Linked DNA regions of Homo sapiens. The protein of the gene in region 1 purifies or fractionates together with the protein of each later gene. This does not show direct contact. Each region holds a gene or a part of one and is shown in the gene's direction. Other genes may lie near its edges.

Region 1 (4,921 bases):
AGCTGGGTGGGCTGTGAGCTGGTACTGGGGGGCCTCCCCGCCTTTGCCTCCTCTGGGCTACGAGCTGTTTCCAGGCAGGTGCCAGGTCAGGGGACCCTAACCCAAATAATCCCAGGCAGGTCCAGGTCAGGGGACCCTATCCCAAATAATCCCAGGCAGGTCCAGCTCAGGGGACCCTAACCCAAATCATCCCAGGCAGGTCCAGCTCAGGGGACCCTAACCCAAATCATCCCAGGCAGGTCCAGCTCAGGGGACCCTAACCCAAATCATCCCAGGCAGGTCCAGCTCAGGGGACCCTACCCAAATCATTCCAGGCAGATCTAGCTCAGGGGACCCTAACCCAAATCATCCCAGGCAGGTCCAGCTCAGGGGACCCTAACCCAAATCATCCCAGGCAGGTCCAGCTCAGGGGACCCTAACCCAAATCATCCCAGGCAGGTCCAGGTCAGGGGACCCTACCCAAATCATCCCAGGCAGGTCTAGCTCAGGGGACCCTAACCCAAATCATCCCAGGCAGGTCCAGCTCAGGGGACCCTAACCCAAATCATCCCAGGCAGGTCCAGCTCAGGGGACCCTAACCCAAATCATCCTAGGCAGGTCCAGCTCAGGGGACCCTAACCCAAATCATCCCAGGCAGGTCCAGCTCAGGGGACCCTAACCCAAATCATCCCAGGCAGGTCCAGGTCAGGGGACCCTAACCCAAATAATCCCAGGAAGAGATGAGGAAGCGGAGGCTGAGTGGGGAGCTGTCCGCGGGAACCTGGGGAGATGGGTGCAGAGCAGGGAGAGGGATTTGATTTTTTTTTTCCTTCTCTCTTTTCTTTCTTTTTTTTTTTAAGACAGAGGCTCACTCTGTTCCAGGCTGGAGTGAAGTGGCCCGATCTTGGCTCACTGCCTCCTCTGCCTCCTGGGTTCAAGCGATTCTCCTGCCTCAGCCTCCCAAGTAGCTGGGACTACAGGTGCCCACCACCACGCCCAGCTCATTTTTGTATTTTAGTACAGACGGGATTTCACCATGTGGGCTAGGCCAGTCTCGAACTCCTGACCTCAGATGATCCGCCCGCCTTGGCCTCCCAAAGTGCTGGGATTGTAGGTGTGAGCCACCGCACCCAGCCCAAACCCTACTTTATTCTCCCTCCAGCGTTTATCTCCCGCTCCCGCTACACGACCTGCCCCCATGCTTATGGCCCCCTATACACTTTGCCGTCTGCCTCAGTGCTGTCTCCGCGGTCACTAGTGGCTGGATAGGGACACTCGAGGTCCCCACTGGTGCACACCCACTGCCCAGGAGCACACAGCCCATTCCCCACGGCGGTGTCTCAGAGCACCGAAGGCCAAGAAAGCTGGAATGGCCGGGTGCAGAAAGGTGGCAGGGAATCGGTGGCAAGGAGCCAGGTGCGTGACTAGAGGCGGTCAGCCTCGGGGGCAGCTCCTTCGGGAGTTGCTAAGAAGCAGGATGGGGGCCGGGCGCGGTGGCTCACACCTGTAATCCCAGCACTTTGGAGGGCTGAGACGGGCAGATCACGAGGTCAGGAGATGGAGACCATCTTGGCTAACACGGTGAAACCCCGTCTCTATTAAAAATACAAAAAATGAGCTGGGCCTGGTGGCGGGCGCCTGCAGTCCCAGCTACTCGGGAGGCTGAGGCAGGAGAATGGCCTGAACCGGGGAGGCGGAGCTTGCAGTGAGCCGAGATCGCACCACTGCACTCCAGCCTGGGCGACAGAGTGAGACTCTGTCTCAAAAAAAATAAAAAAGAAAAAAGAGCTGATGGTTGCACAACATTGCAGACGTACGAAATGCTGTGAAATGGTGCGGTTTCAGGTGGTTGAAGTGGTAAACGTCAGGTGTGATATAGCGGGGAGGTGAGAAGGCAGGGCGGGGAGGCAGATCCGGCCAGGTTTGTCCTGCACCGGGAGTGGATTAGAGCTGATGTTTATCAGTGAGTTCTAAGCCGGTTGTCGGCCTGCTTGGAGGGCGGTTTATCTGTGCCCGCCTGCAGTGGCTGGGGCGCCCCCAATGATGGGAAAAGGGAGCATCTGCGTGGGTGTGGTGAGGGGGGACCTCCAGGCCGCTCTATCTGCTGTTGCCCTGGAGTCCCCGGCCCCACCCTCTGCAGAGCTTCTGTGGGGTTCCTGCTGGGGGTGCCCCCAGCCCAGCTCAGTCTCGTGCCCTTTGCTCCACCAGCTCCTGTCCAAATATGACCCCCAGAAGGAGGCAGAGCTCCGCACCTGGATCGAGGGACTCACCGGCCTCTCCATCGGCCCCGACTTCCAGAAGGGCCTGAAGGATGGAACTATCTTATGCACGTGAGTACACGCAGGGACACAGGCTGTCTCACACTTAACAAATCTTGGTTTTTCTCACTTTTTTTCTTAATTAAGAAATTTTTGGGGGGCCGGGCATGGCCTGGCTCATGCCTGTAATCCCAGCACTTTTGGAGGCCGAGGGTGGTGGCGGGGGGCGGTGGATCTCGAGGTCAGGAGTTCGAGACCAGCCTGGCCAACATGGTGAAACCCCGTCTGTACTAATAATACAAAAAAATTAGCCAGGCACCTGTAATCCCAGCTACTCAGGAGGCTGAGGAAGGAGAATTGCTTGAACCCGGGAGGCGGAGGTTGCAGTGAGCCGAGATCACACCATTGCACTCCAGCCGGGGTGACACAGCGAGACTCCATCTCAAAAAAAAAAAAAAAAAAAAAAAAAAGTTAGCTGGGCGTGGTGGCTAAATAAATAATTTTTTTTTTTTGAGGTGGAGTCTCACTCTGTTGCCCAAGCTGGAGTGCAGTGGCATGATCTCGGCTCACTGCAACCTCCACCTCCTGGGTTCAAGTGATTCCCCTGCCTCAGCCTCCCGAGTAGCTGGGATTACAGGCGACTGCCACCATGCCCGGCTAATTTTTTTTGTATATTTAGTAGAGATGGGGTTGCTCCATGTTGGCCAGGCTGGTCTTGAGCCCTTGACGTCACGTGATCTGCCTGCCTCGGCCTTCCAAAGTGCTGGGCTTACAGGCCTGAGCCACCAAACCCAGCCAAAGATTACTTTATAAGAGTGGAAACTTGAGGCCTGGGATGGTGGCTCACGCTTGTAATCCCAGCACTTTGGGAGGTTGAGGTGGACGGATCACGAGGTCAGGAGATCGAGACCAGCCTGGACAACATGGTGAAACTCCATCTCTACTAAAAATGCAAAAATTAGCCGGGTGTGGTGGCAGGCACCTGTAATCCCAGCTACTCGGGAGGCTCAGGGCTGAGGCAGGAGAATCACTTGAACCCGGGAGGTGGAGGTGGCAGTGAGTCTAGATAGTGCCATTGCACTCTAGTCTGGGTGACAGAGCTAGACGCCGTCTCAAAAAAAAAAAAAAAAAGAGTGGAAACTGAGGCCCAGAGAGAGGCCGTGAGTTTGCCCAGGAAGGCGTGAGCTTGGCTGAGATCAGCATCGGGTCTTCACGGTTCCTCGCTGCTCACAGAGGTTTCTGTTTCCCCCGCCCCATGTTGTGCCCTCCAGACTCATGAACAAGCTACAGCCGGGCTCCGTCCCCAAGATCAACCGCTCCATGCAGAACTGGCACCAGGTGAGGGGCTGGTGGAGCGGAGCAGGGATGGTGCTGGGGGCCCATCTAACAGGTGGGGAGACTGAGGCCCACTCACTGTCCCTCTCCTGCCTCTTCCCAGCTAGAAAACCTGTCCAACTTCATCAAGGCCATGGTCAGCTACGGCATGAACCCTGTGGACCTGTTCGAGGCCAACGACCTGTTTGAGAGTGGGAACATGACGCAGGTGCAGGTGTCTCTTCTCGCCCTGGCGGGGAAGGTGAGGCCCAGAGAGGGGCAGCCACCTGCCCAGAGTCACACAGCGAGGTGGATGTAGCTGCTGCATTCACTCGTTTGCAAATTTCTGTTTGTTTATTTTTGAGTCGGAGTCTCACTCTGTCACTCAGGCTGGAGTGCAATGGCGTGATCTCAGCTCACTGCAACCTCCAACTCCCAGGTTCAAGCGATTCTTCTGCCTCAGTCTCCCGAGTAGCTGGGATTACAGGCACCTGCCACCACGCCTGGCTAATTTTTGTATTTTTAGTGGAGACTGGGTTTCACCATGCTGGCCAGGCTGGTCTTGAACTCTTGACTTCAGGTGATCCGCCCGCCTCGGCCTCCCCAAGTGCTGGGATTACAGGCATGAGCCCCTGTGCCCGGCCTCGTTTACAAATATTTCTGAGCATCCGTGAGGTGCCAGGTACTTCAGATTCCTTGGTGAACAGGAAGGACATGGTCTACCCCTTATGCAGTTCAGTCTGATGGCGGAGGCATGCAAAAGTGAACACAGCATTGTATTATGCATTATATGTAAGCTCTGGCCGGGCGCAGTGGCTCACACCTGTAATCCCAGCACTTTGGGAGGCCGAGGTTGGAGAATTGCTTGACACCAGGAGTTCGAGACCAGCCTGGCCAACATGGTGAAACCCCATCTCTACTAAGAAAACAAAAATTACCTGGGCGTGGTGGTGCATGCCTGTAATCCCAGCTACTCGGGAGGCTGAGCCCAGGAGTTAAGAGGTTGCAGTGAGCTATGACCACACCACTGCTCTCCAGCCTGGGCAACAGAGCAAGACTCTCTCAAAAAATAATCATAACAAAAGTAATAAATAAGCTCTGAACTGGGAGAAATGCCTTGAAGGAGAAGAATCAGACGAATGTTGAGTGTCTAGTGATCTTCAAACCCAGACCGGGAGCGTGGGTGGGACAGTGGTGTAGACCGGGAGCGTGGGTGGGACAGTGTCTGGTGTAGACCGGGAGCGTGGGTGGGACACGGTGTCTGGTGTAGACCGGGAGCGTGGGTGGGACACGGTGTCTGGTGTAGACGGGGAGCGTGGGTGGGACGGTGTCTGGTGTAGACCGGGAGCGTGGGTGGGACACGGTGTCTG
Region 2 (4,394 bases), on another chromosome or scaffold:
CTAGTTTTTATATTTTTAGTAGAGACTAAACCTAGTAGATGACCAACATGGTTTCATCATGTCGGTCAGGCTGGTCTTGAACTCCTGACCTCGTGATCCACCCGCTTTGGCCTCCCAAAGTGCTGGGATTACAGGCATGAGCCACTGCGCCCAGCCAAGTTTATTTTTTTTAAGTCTCCCAACTAACCCCACTTTGACCATAGTCTTTCAAAAGCTTGAAGTTAATTTCTCAAATAATATATTTACTGTTTTAGCTTTATTTTTAAGTAAAAATGCTTGAAGAGTAGAAATCAGTGTTCTCCTTTCCTGGAGCTTCTGAAATTGTAAAATTGTGTGATTTTATTTGTATGCATTTTTAAAGAGGCTTAGTTTACGTAGCTTTCATCGGATTTTCAAAGGAGGATTTTATATATATGTGTATATATATACACACATACATACATATACACACACACACATATAAAACCTAAAGAGAGAAAATGAGGAATTCCTGCTCTAGACAAAACTGAGAATCTTGGTCTTCATGCTACAGCATTAAGGAACACCATACTAATAATCCCTTTTTCTGGGGTAGTATTGTTAGCACTGAAATGTGTATCATTCATTCCCTCACTAAGTCATTTCAGAAACACTTAGCACCTGCTATACGTCAAGGTCTGGTTTGCAAAGATAAAGAGTTGTGATGATGATCCTATGGTGTTTGGAGATATAGACACATAAAAATTTCAATGATTTCTTACAGTGGGGTAAGGATAAGGGATAGAGGTTGCATAAACAATAATCCAGGCTGGGGGCTGGTATGGCAATAAGTGATTATCAGAACAATGCTCTGAGATAAGCATTATTAACCTCACTTTACAGGAAAGGGAGGTGAGGAACCAAGAGTTTAGAGTACCCGAAGTTCCACATCTGGTTAGTGAACTTGAAAATTTTCTGTAGAATTTATTTAAAGTGTATGTTTCCTGCGTCCTCACTTTGATCTAGAAAATCAAAATCTGTTTTTTTTTTTAACAAACATCTCAGTAATTACGCCAACATGTGAATATCACTGCCTCCTTTCTTCCTTTCAGAATATGGCCCAGTTTTCTGTTTTATTACCAAGACATTAAAGTAGCATGGCTGCCCAGGAGAAAAGAAGACATTCTAATTCCAGTCATTTTGGGAATTCCTGCTTAACTTGAAAAAAATATGGGAAAGACATGCAGCTTTCATGCCCTTGCCTATCAAAGAGTATGTTGTAAGAAAGACAAGACATTGTGTGTATTAGAGACTCCTGAATGATTTAGACAACTTCAAAATACAGAAGAAAAGCAAATGACTAGTAAACATGTGGGAAAAAATATTACATTTTAAGGGGGAAAAAAAAACCCACCATTCTCTTCTCCCCCTATTAAATTTGCAACAATAAAGGGTGGAGGGTAATCTCTACTTTCCTATACTGCCAAAGAATGTGAGGAAGAAATGGGACTCTTTGGTTATTTATTGATGCGACTGTAAATTGGTACAGTATTTCTGGAGGGCAATTTGGTAAAATGCATCAAAAGACTTAAAAATACGGACGTACTTTGTGCTGGGAACTCTACATCTAGCAATTTCTCTTTAAAACCATATCAGAGATGCATACAAAGAATTATATATAAAGAAGGGTGTTTAATAATGATAGTTATAATAATAAATAATTGAAACAATCTGAATCCCTTGCAATTGGAGGTAAATTATGTCTTAGTTATAATTAGATTGTGAATCAGCCAACTGAAAATCCTTTTTGCATATTTCAATGTCCTAAAAAGACACGGTTGCTCTATATATGAAGTGAAAAAAGGATATGGTAGCATTTTATAGTACTAGTTTTGCTTTAAAATGCTATGTAAATATACAAAAAAACTAGAAAGAAATATATATAACCTTGTTATTGTATTTGGGGGAGGGATACTGGGATAATTTTTATTTTCTTTGAATCTTTCTGTGTCTTCACATTTTTCTACAGTGAATTTAATCAAATAGTAAAGTTGTTGTAAAAATAAAAGTGGATTTAGAAAGATCCAGTTCTTGAAAACACTGTTTCTGGTAATGAAGCAGAATTTAAGTTGGTAATATTAAGGTGAATGTCATTTAAGGGAGTTACATCTTTATTCTGCTAAAGAAGAGGATCATTGATTTCTGTACAGTCAGAACAGTACTTGGGTTTGCAACAGCTTTCTGAGAAAAGCTAGGTGTTTAATAGTTTAACTGAAAGTTTAACTATTTAAAAGACTAAATGCACATTTTATGGTATCTGATATTTTAAAAAGTAATGTTTGATTCTCCTTTTTATGAGTTAAATTATTTTATACGAGTTGGTAATTTTTGCTTTTTAATAAAGTGGAAGCTTGCTTTTTTAACTCTTTTTTTATTGTTATTTTATAGAAATGCTTTTTGTTGGCCGGGCACAGTTGCTCATCCATGTAATCCCAGCACTGTGGGAGGCCGAGACGGGTGGATCACAAGGTCAGGAGATCGAGACCATCCTGGCTAATGCGTTGAAACTCCGTCTCTACTAAAAATACAAAAAATTAGCTGGGCGTGGTGGTGGGCACCTGTAGTCCCAGCTACTCAGGAGGCTGAGGCAGGAGAATGGTGTGAACCTGGGAGGTGGAGCTTGCAGTGAGCAGAGCTTGCAGTGAGACGAGCTTGTGCCACTGCACTCCAGCCTGGGCAACAGAGTAAGACTCAGTCTCAAAAAAAAAAAAAAGAGTGAAATGCTTTTTGTTTGCTTCAGTTTTTTATCATGGGGAGATCTTTTTCCTCAGAATTGTTTTCTTTTCACTGTAGGCTATTACAGGATACTTCAGGATCAAGATACAGAACCTTTTATTTAAAGAGTTTGTAAAGTCAATGTGTTTGTTTGTGTCTCTGAGATTGACTTCAAGATAATAAGCTGCTAATTGTAAACAAAACAGTTACCCTCCAGTATTAATATGACTCATTAGTGTGAGCCATTTGGGTCAAGTATGATTATGACCCTTGGACTTCCTGATGTAGTATTAAATTTCAACTCTGGTTATCCATTAGCAATCTGTAGAGAACTTAATGAACCTGAACCCAGGCTTCTCTAGCTCTGGTAACGTGTGATTGTTTTCACTACAATATGATACATAGATGGTACCTTACTTTTCCTCATTCTTAATAGGTGTCTAAGAATGTCAGGGCAAAAGTATGGGCATTTTTCTTGCTATGTTCAGAAAGTACAGTTCTCTCCAACTTGCAGAGGTACTTTTCTTGATTAAATAGCCTTCTCTAGCAACATCATTTTCAGACTAACTAAATGAATGCAGTATACTCTTTTCTTTGTTCTCAATCATTCACTCCTTATGCAAAGCCAATATAATTTTCCTCATACCTTATGCTTGAGGATATTGTTGAAGAACACTTCCTGGAACACTTCTCACTTGTGATGCTGTACTAATTTTTTTTTTTTAATTTAAGCTAGTATACTAAGTGAACACCATGGTCAGTTGTGAGCATTTTGGTTTCCGCAAAGGATGGATGGTGAGCATCATGGGAAAGCTGTAGTTTAGTGACTTAGCCCTTAGTGATTAATAGATTTGCATGTACATAGAAGTCTTTGTTGGCCTTATAATCTGCTGTTATATTTGGCATGGATTTTCATGGTTTTGAGAATGACATCCTGGCCCTGTGGTCCCCGAGGGTCATGGTCCTTGTGACCTGGCCCCTGTTCACTGCCCCCTTCGCTAGCACGAGTTGCTGTGCAGGGCTGGAGGTAGCTACCATGGCTTGTTTCAAGGAAGGAAACTCTGGTACGGTGGCACCCTCAGGAGTGGAGGACAGTGAACTTCCTTGAAGAGGGAGTGACTAAGGTGACCTCCAACCTGCCCTGAGCCAGCTGCCCTGCAGGTGCCACGTGAGCCTGCTCTGGCATCCACAGGATGCTCCTGGAGCCTCTTCTCTGGCTGCTACCTCAGGGCATGGTTGTGGCCCCACCAACACCTATTTTCCAAATAATTATTCATTCTTGTGACAGTGGCCTGAACATGTTTTTAATTTTCTCAACAAGCATTTAGCCAGCACTTATCCAGTGAAACAATTTGATAAGGTTTCAAGGAGTATCTGATGGGTTAGGAAGTCACGAAATGAGGAGTTCTTGCCACATTTGCAGAGTCCCTCCTTGATAAGGTTTGGCGGTGTCCCCACCCAAATCTCATGTTGAATTGTAGTTCCCATAATCCCCACATGTTGTGGGAGGGACCCAGTGGGAGGTAATTAAATCATGGGGGTGGTTACCCCCACACTGCTGTTCTCATGATACTGAGTTCTCACAAGTCCTGTTTGTTTTATAAGGGGCTTTTCCCCCTTTTGCTCAACACTTCTTCCTGCCATCATGTGAAGAAGGACGT
Region 3 (4,063 bases), on another chromosome or scaffold:
CCAGACTCTCCAGCCACACCCATTGTACACGCATTATCTCATTCAATCCTCATGACAACTCTGGAAGTGAAATCATGTTAGTGCACCCATTTTGCAGATGAGGACACTGAGGCTTAGGGAGATGGTGTGTGACCTTCCCAATGTCATATGTCTAATAAATGGCAGGAATGGAATTCAAACCATGGTTTACTAAACTCCAAAGCTGGAGCCCTTCTACAGTCTCAGGATCTAGAACAGGGATTATTACTATCTCTGCTGTTGACATGAGGAAACTGTGGTTCAGGGAGGTCAAGTGACCTGCCAAAGCTTGTACACATGGAAAGTAGTAGAACCAGGATGCAAACACATTTCTTTACCACCAACACCAATATCTATTTTGCCAACAAAACAATGAGGGGGCCTGAGTAAATAATCTCAACGGTTAACTCCACCCTCCAATTGAGATACTTTTTTTTTTTTTTTTTTTTTTTGAGACAGGGTCTGGCTCTCTGTCACCCAGGCTGGAATGCAGTGGTGCAATCTGAGCTCACTGCAGCCTCTGCCTCCTGGGTTCAAGCCATCCTCCCACCTCAGCTTCCCAAGTAGCTAGGACTACAGGCACATGCCACCATGCCCAGCTAATTTTTGTATTTTTTGTAGAAACAGGGTTTTGCCATATTGCCAAGGCTGTTCTCAAACTCCTGGGCTCAAGCAGTCCTCCTGCCTCAGCCTCCTAAAGTGAGCCACCACACCCAGCAGCTGAGACACTTTTTAATTCTGGGCTAGGGCAAAGAGAAGTTGGAAGGAAAATGGGTGAAAATAAAGAAGTTCTCAGTTATACTGCAGCTTGTTCATGCCTCCTGCCTCGGGATGCCGCAGTGGCTGCCCCAGCCCTGCCCTTTCAGCCTCAGCCCTTCCCTCAGTGAAGGAGAGAAAAAGTGATTTAACAAAGTGAGGACTGTCAGCCCTTGGAGCTTGGACCTTTGAGATCTCACACTGCCCCACCCAGTAGCTTCCCCTTCCAGTAGCGTGGCACCACCTTCTGACCCACCCCTCAGTGTGTCCACCAGTGAGAGTGGTTCCTAAGGGAGAGTGTGAAGCACACGTAGGCACTGTCTTACACCACACCTGCTGAGTCCAAACCATGGGAGGCTCCTCTCCTAGACCCTGCATCCTGAAAGCTGCGTACCTGAGAGCCTGCGGTCTGGCTGCAGGGACACACCCAAGGGGAGGAGCTGCAATCGTGTCTGGGGCCCCAGCCCAGGCTGGCCGGAGCTCCTGTTTCCCGCTGCTCTGCTGCCTGCCCGGGGTACCAACATGGCCCAGAAGCGTCCTGCCTGCACCCTGAAGCCTGAGTGTGTCCAGCAGCTGCTGGTTTGCTCCCAGGAGGCCAAGAAGTCAGCCTACTGCCCCTACAGTCACTTTCCTGTGGGGGCTGCCCTGCTCACCCAGGAGGGGAGAATCTTCAAAGGTAAAGGTGGGCACCCCAGGGTCCCCCAGCCCAGCAGCCTGGGTGGTGGGTCAGAGGAAGATGTACAGGAAGAGGCGCAGAGGCACAGGCAGTGGCAAGAGCGCGGCTCTGTCCCTTCTTCCCCCAGTCTCCGCTGGAATGTTCCTACCCTGCCGACTGCCCCAGACCGCGCTCAAATGTGGCTTAAATCCAGGGTCTTTCAATGCTTAGAGGACTGGGATGAGGAAGGAAGTTGGATGGGAGGCAGGAAGGGGAGGCCATAAATCAAAAACATCAACAGTCCTGGGGTGCAGGCAGGGAGAGCGTTCGTGCTTTCCCAGCCTCGGATATGTCTGGCACCTTACTGAGGCTTCCACAACACTAAGTCCACACCTCCTGCCCACTGACCTAAGTGTTAATGCTCGTCTTTAGATGAAACTACGGAGGTCTCGAGAGGTGACATGACTTGCCCAAGGTCACACGGGGCGCTGGTGGTGAAACCCTGGGCTGGAGGTTCCCCAAAGCCCTGCTCTCTTCCTTCCACCCACTGTGCTCAGTGCTGGCCAGGGTGGTGACGTGTTTGTCGGGGGTGGTCGGTGGAGAATCTTGGAGGAGAAAAGCCAGCTGGGCTTTCGGAGTCCAGCAGTGAGCAGCGCCCTGCGGGGCGGGGGCGGGTAATGGAACCTGAGCCCATCTGAGTCTGCTCTAATCTGTTCCTAAACTCTTTTCTTTGATTTATTGCTTTTGTAGAAAAGTTCATGTGAGCAAAAATTCAAGCTTGTTTTTGCTAAGCTTAGAGGCATTCTCCTTCAGGGCAGTAGGGGACATGGTGTGGAGGTACCCCTTGGTATTATTCCCTGTCTGTTGAGGTTCTGTCGGGTGTGACTTGCCTGGGTCTTAAACATCTTTGAGTGGGAGAAGCAGGTTTGATTGAGTGCTAACAGCCTGTGAAAGGAAGGTGATTAATGCTATCCATTTAACCCCTGCAACCCTGAAAGGCAGAGAAGGAAACAGGTTTGGAAAGTTTCAGAGCTCAAAATCACAGAGCTGGGATTGGAACCCAGACTTCCCCTGACTCCAAAAGCTGTTGCTCTGTGGGGAGTGAAGGATCTCTGAGTACCGTGTTGAAATTCAGACCTGTTTTGGTGGCTGAGGTGAATATTAAACATTAACCACCACCACAAACAACAAACATTCACCACCACCGCAAACACCATTGCAACTCACAACATTGCAGAATCTTGAATGTGGAAATCAGCCCTTGATTCTTTCGAAAGCCTCCACATCCTTTCCAGATGGCACAGAAAGGGCCCTCCTACAATCCCCCGGCACCCACACTGACCCCTCCTGCCGTGCTTATCACATGGTGTCATCACTGTCCACTTATGTATCTGCCTCTCCCTTGGGACTTTGTGCTGCAGAGGGCAGGAGCTGTGTCTTGAATCTTTGTGCCATTGACTTTCTCGTGCTGTGACGTAGCACCTGCCTGGCTCAGAACAGGCACTCAATAACTGTTGAGTGACTGATTGGATGAATGAATGAGATGAGTACGTTTGGAGAAGCAGAAGGAAGAGGGATGGTGGGGCAGGTGGTGGTGATGGGGGCTCAGCATGTTCGGCCACAGCATTTCCTGGCCTGTGGGGCCAGCATGGCTGCCTTCCATCCATGCTTTCCAGCACTGGAACTGGTGTTCTGCTTGGAACAGCAGGAGGTCAGACAGCCTCATCGTGCCTCCAGAGCCAGGGGACCCCCATGCCAGAATGCTTGGGTCCTTTCTTGTTTTAAAACCCACAATAGTCGGGCATGGTGGCTCACGCCTGTAACCCCAGCACTTTGGGAGGCCGAGGCAGGCGGATCACGATGTCAGGAGATCGAGACCATCCTGGCTAACACGGTGAAACTCCATCTCTACTAAAAATACAAAAAAAAATAGCCGGGCGTGGTGATGGGTGCCTGTAGTCCCAGCTACTCGGGAGGCTGAGGCAGGAGAATGGTGTGAACCTGGGAGGCGGAGCTTGCAGAGAGCCGAGATCGTGCCACTGCACTCCAGCCTGGGCGACAGAGCGAGACTCTGTCTCAAAAACAAACAAACAAAAAAAAACAAACCCACAATAAAGGAGGCACACTTTCACTCATAAGTGACACCTGGGAGCTCCTTCCAGTGAAGTCCACACCTCTGTCACCCTCATACTGATCATTCAACAGATATTTGCTGAACATCAACTCTGTTCCAGGTAAGGTGCCAGGTGCTGGGGATATCACAGTGAACAGGGATGACACAATCCCTGCCCCCATGGCAGTCCCCTCATATTGCATAGGTGATGACTGAAGGCTCGAGCCTCATCCAGTGGAAGGAAGGAATGGAGGAGATAAACAGGACTGTGGCCCATTTGCATTGCAGGGAAAGACCTGGTGTCACCAGAGAAAGGGTTGTGTGATGGGGATTTAGAGAGTGAAATGGAGGCTTCAGAGTCAGAGGTTCCTGGGTTGGAAGGCTGGTGTTTATCAACTGTGTGACTCTGGGTGAGACCCTTCACCTTTCTGAGTGTCAGCTCATACATTTTATTTATTTATGGGTTTTTTTTTGTTTTTTTTTTTTGAGATGGAGTCTCACTCTGTCACCCAGGCTGGAGT
Region 4 (4,921 bases), on another chromosome or scaffold:
TAAACTCATTTTTAAGATGACACAGTGAATACTTCTGTGGGATTCCTGGAATAGTCATTTCTTCTTGGAAATTTGCCCTCATTCCTGGAGTGCCCACTGACTGCGTTTTCCTGGCCCTTCCCATTAGGTGTGTGTGTGGAGCAGGAGATGTGTGTGTGTAGGTGGGTGTGTGTGTGTGCTCTATTTAAGCCTAAAATTTTTCTTGTTGCCACCCTGCCAAGCCCCTACATTTGAGGGGTTTCCTTCTAGTCTGTTCTCGTCTGTTCCTAACTTGTCTGTTAGCCACCTCCCCTGAGTTTTGCTAAATTGCTATTTGTCAGTTAAACTGCTTTCCTTCTCTTATCACCAGAATCTCTTCAAGGTTAGAGGGCAGACATCTCAAGAAAAATTCCATTAATTTCTGGATAAAATGTCAAAATGGTACTGAGAAATAATGGCCAGCTGACATTAGCATCCAAGCCCAAGGGAATGTAGTCAAAATGATAATACTGTCGTGGGGAAAGCAATCCGCTGCCGCAGTGAGCGCATTTTACTGTGGGGATAAATATGCAGTGCTTCCGCATTCTCTCTCACCCTCAGTTAAAATGCTACTCTGAACATTAGCAGTGATTCCATTCATTTTTTGCCTTCAGGATTGATAAAGCCTAACAGTCCACCCCCTCCTGCCCCACACCCCATCCACCCACATGCATGCCCCATCACTGGTGGAGATGTGGGGCCCTACCCAGGAAACTGTGGGAGACTTGTCCTTGTTTCGTCGCATCACCTACTGAGGGGGATCCTCTCCTTCCACACTTTCCTTTGCCCCAACCCAAAGCTGGGGTGCTCTCACATGGTGCCAGCCACTCCTCTGACAGTGACCTACAATCCAGGACTGACCTAAGCTAGATTTCAACAAATGTGCATGTTGGGTAAAGAGATGCAATGCTTAGAAGTGGTGCTTTGGCCAGGCATGGTGGCTTATGCCTGTAATCCCAGCACTTTGGGAGGCCAAGGTGGGTGGATCACCTGAGGTCAGGAGTTCAAGACCAACCTGGCTAACGTGGTGAAATCCCATCTCTACCAAAATACAAAAACTAGCTGGGGATGATGGCAAGTGCCGGTAATCCCAGCTACTTAGGAGGCTGAGGTGGGAAAATCGCTTGAACCTAGGAGGCGGAGGTTGCAGAGAGCAGAGATTGCGCCTTTGCACTCCAGCCTGGGTGACAGAGCGAGACTCCATCTCAAAAAAAAAAAAAAAAGAAGTGGGGCTCTGCTAGGCACCATCACAACTTGTGGAATCTTCCCACCTGTCTCCTGAGGACTCACTGGGATGGGACCTTCACTGTAGCTTCAAGGTGATTGGGCCAAGGCTGTGGCTGTATGGGAGAATGTTCTGGATGATAATGGATCATCAGTGTGAAATTAGTATTTATATTATTTATAATTTAAAAGTAGATTCTGGAAGAAATGGGTTGTATCCAAAGGAGTATGTTTCTAATGAGGAGAGATTGTCTAACCTGGAGCAAAGGGAAGGAAACCAGAAGCAAGGAAGCAGGTCACAAAGCCGAGATGCTGCAAGATTTCTGCACCTACCGTAGGTCAGGCCTGAGGAAATAGAGGGAATAAACTCTGCTACCTCCAGGCAGACCCTAAGAACTGCCTAGACACAGCGTGATTATACAGATGACTTTCTTTTTGGATATTATAAAGATGATTTTCTTTTTAAAGCTTCCCCATTCATGAACCATTTCTAATTTGAATAACGTACACTAAGCATTCATTCACTCATTCATTTACTTAACAGTCATTAACCTGTCAGCTTTGCTGCTTACTGATTGTTATTCAATCTCACTTTCCCTCAAATTTCTTCCTGGTGAACTAAGTGTAATAAAACTACCTACATCCTAAGGTTGTTGTGAAGACTGAAGTGTGTGAGTCACGGATAGCAGTGATGAGTCCACAGTAAGCACCCTATCTAATGTTTGCATTTACTGGTCTGAGTTCCATGTGCTATCAACTGAAGAATCATAAGGTTCATGCATTTGGAAAGGAGGGTTTTATTTCTTATAAAGGGTTGCAGCCTGCAGGCTAGCCATCTTGCAGGCTGGGAAGCGTAGCCTCTGCCCAAAGCGGAGAACAAGTACTTGGAGGAGGGGCAAAGGGAACAGAAATTTATCCTGAGCAGAGTGGCTGAATATTCACATTCAGTAGGATATGGGAGGAGTCATGAATATTTATGAAAGGGGAAACAGGTGCATGCACAGATGAGCTTAATGCGCTCATAAAACTGTAGGGCCAACTTACAAGTAACACAAACAACCAAAAATGGGTGCCCCAATCTTTTCTATCACAAGACTCTGCTACCCTGTATCTTCATGCATTTATGCATGTGTTTTCTTGTTTTATTATTTCATTTATTTATTTATTTTTGAGATGGAGTCTGGCTGCATTGCCAAGGCTGGAGTGCAGTGGCACCATCTCGGCTCACTGCAACCTCTGCCTCCTGGGTTCAAGAGATTCTCCTGCCTCAGCCTCCTGAGTAGTGTTATATAACAGTGTTATGATGCGTTTATATACATGGTGGACATGAATTCTGGATCACGTGCTCAAAAAATGGCAGCCTTAGCATGTTCCGAGGGTTGAGTTTTTGGCCCTCTGATGTCAAAAGGTGAAGCAGAGGACATGAAAACCCTCACTACGTATCCTCGGGAAGTCAGCCAAAACCAGTCGAGATGGTGATCAGTTTTTAGGAAGGGATGTGTTGTGAGACTGGTGAGCTGTCACATCCAAACTGCAAAGAGGGAGGAAAATTTGGTTGCAGTTTCAGATGGTTAGCTAAAGGCGATAAAGGAATAGATTATCCATTTCTTGTTTTTTAGAGCTGGTTTCTGCTTACACTGAGGAAAGAATTCTGGTTAAAGATTAATAAGGAAGAGTCATACTATGGCGTGTTTGACCTCTCATCCCATAATGGCTGGGAACTCAGTTTTTAAGGTTTCTCTGGGATCGCTTTGGCCAAGAGAGGCTGCATTCAGTCAACTGGGGGAGCTTAGGATTTTATTTTTATTTCTCAATGCCAAACTAGGCTGTGGCACAGAGTAAACAACGGAGAGCAAAGAACAGACACTGTTTCTGCCCTTAGCTAGTGTACCTTCTAGTTGTGTGCAGGCAATGAACAAGTAAGTCCAGAAAACATCATGGATAGGCTGGGCGCGGTGGCTCATGCCTGTAATCCTAGTACTTTGGCAGGCCGAGGTGGGCAGATCACTTGAGGTCAGGAGTTCGAGACCAGCCTGGCCAACATGATGAAATCCCCTCTCTACTAAAAATACAAAATTTAGCCAGGTGTAATGGTGCACGCCTGTAATCCCAGCTACTCGGGAGGCTGAGGCAGGAGAATCTCTTGAACCTGGGAGGCAGAGGTTGCAGTGAGCCGAGATGGTGCCACTGCACTGCAGCCTTGGCAATAGAGCCAGACTCCATCTCAAAAATAAATAAATAAATAAAATAATAAAACAAGAAAACACATGCATAAATGCACGAAGATACAGGGTAGCAGAGTCTTGTGATAGAAAAGATTGGGGCACCCATTTTTGGTTGTTTGTGGTACTTGTAAGTTGGCACTACAGTGTTATGATGCTATTTATAAGCATGGTGGACATGACTTCCAACCTGAAACCCACCCTCCCTGGGGAGTCTTGCCCTGCTTCCCTGGGCCAAGATAGTCAATCTCTTCTTTGCACCTCTGCAGCATGTATACACCTCTCTACTTAATGTTTTCACACAGCATTGTGACTCCTGGACACCAAGATGGAGCAGGGTGCTGCTCCCCTAGTGGGCTTGACCTGCCTGAGACTATCTCTGCATCCTCAACCCCTAAGGCCTAGCCAGTATTATGGAATGAATCACCTAAAATATGTTCCACCCTGCATCTCTCTAGGGCAAAGCATCCAGTGGAATCCCACCTGGTGTTTACTGTGGGCAGAGGTGAATCTGTGGTTTTTGCTTTGCTATTAAACCAGAGGCAGCCATAGAAGTTCCAAGTGTTGTAAAACCCAAGTGCTTCCTCCATCCCTACCCACTCCCATTCAAGCGATTGGACTTTAAAGGAGAATTTCCAAGTAACTTGAACTCTTCAACATACTGAGAATTACTATAACTGATACTGTTTCCTATCCAGGTGTTCCACCAGGTGTGGTCAATATTGTGTTTGGAACCGGGCCCAGGGTGGGTGAGGCCCTGGTGTCCCACCCAGAGGTGCCCCTGATCTCCTTCACCGGGAGCCAGCCCACCGCTGAGCGGATCACCCAGCTGAGCGCTCCCCACTGCAAAAAGCTCTCCCTGGAGCTGGGGGGCAAGAATCCTGCCATCATCTTTGAGGACGCCAACCTGGATGAGTGCATTCCGGCAACCGTCAGGTCCAGCTTTGCCAACCAGGTATGTCCCCGGGGGTTCTTCTCCCTCCCCTCCATGGCCCTGTCAAGCTGGATCTGTTTTATCACAGTGCAATGCCTGGGAGCAAGCCAGTCAATCCAGTGCCATTTCCGAGAAAGCAGGATCAGTACATTGTGTGATTCCCTTAACTCTCTGCTCAATTTTAACATTAATTAGTGGCCTTGCAGAGTCACAGCTTCTGTTCAGCAAACTCCTCTTCTTGAGTTGCACAGCTTTTATCAGGTACCAGCCATGGGTGGAATGATTGATGTTGCTGCTCCAAGCATCTCCATTTCTTTATTCACACAGCTGCCCTGTCTTGTCTTTTATTCTTTTCTTAAACCCTGTCTTTGCTTGTCGTTCAAATGTCCTATTCCCAGTAAACCTTACTCTCATTTCAAAAGTATTCAAAATGCGTTCATCCACTGAGTTCCAAATACCTGAAACTGACTAGAGAAGATTTCTTGGCGTGGATTCATGGATCAGCTTCAGGGCATCGTTGTAG

What was found.
Region 2: the proteins of CNN2 (region 1) and MTAP fractionate together in Homo sapiens (co-fractionation; one large-scale study listed by BioGRID). This does not show direct contact.
Region 3: the proteins of CNN2 (region 1) and CDA purify together in Homo sapiens (co-immunoprecipitation; one large-scale study listed by IntAct). This does not show direct contact.
Region 4: the proteins of CNN2 (region 1) and ALDH8A1 fractionate together in Homo sapiens (co-fractionation; one large-scale study listed by BioGRID). This does not show direct contact.

Annotation. Positions count from the first base shown.
Region 1 is NC_000019.10:1,028,884-1,033,804, forward strand, and holds part of CNN2 (calponin-2), read left to right. Parts: intron 1-2,187; coding exon 2,188-2,309; intron 2,310-3,508; coding exon 3,509-3,575; intron 3,576-3,675; coding exon 3,676-3,813; intron 3,814-4,921. UniProt on the Homo sapiens protein: Thin filament-associated protein that is implicated in the regulation and modulation of smooth muscle contraction. It is capable of binding to actin, calmodulin and tropomyosin. The interaction of calponin with actin inhibits the actomyosin Mg-ATPase activity.
Region 2 is NC_000009.12:21,860,906-21,865,299, forward strand, and holds part of MTAP (S-methyl-5'-thioadenosine phosphorylase), read left to right. Parts: intron 1-1,070; coding exon 1,071-1,109; 3' UTR 1,110-4,394. UniProt on the Homo sapiens protein: Catalyzes the reversible phosphorylation of S-methyl-5'-thioadenosine (MTA) to adenine and 5-methylthioribose-1-phosphate. Involved in the breakdown of MTA, a major by-product of polyamine biosynthesis.
Region 3 is NC_000001.11:20,587,834-20,591,896, forward strand, and holds the start of CDA (cytidine deaminase), read left to right. Parts: upstream 1-1,263; 5' UTR 1,264-1,296; coding exon 1,297-1,450; intron 1,451-4,063. UniProt on the Homo sapiens protein: This enzyme scavenges exogenous and endogenous cytidine and 2'-deoxycytidine for UMP synthesis.
Region 4 is NC_000006.12:134,932,274-134,937,194, reverse strand, and holds part of ALDH8A1 (2-aminomuconic semialdehyde dehydrogenase), read left to right. Parts: intron 1-4,162; coding exon 4,163-4,419; intron 4,420-4,921. UniProt on the Homo sapiens protein: Catalyzes the NAD-dependent oxidation of 2-aminomuconic semialdehyde of the kynurenine metabolic pathway in L-tryptophan degradation.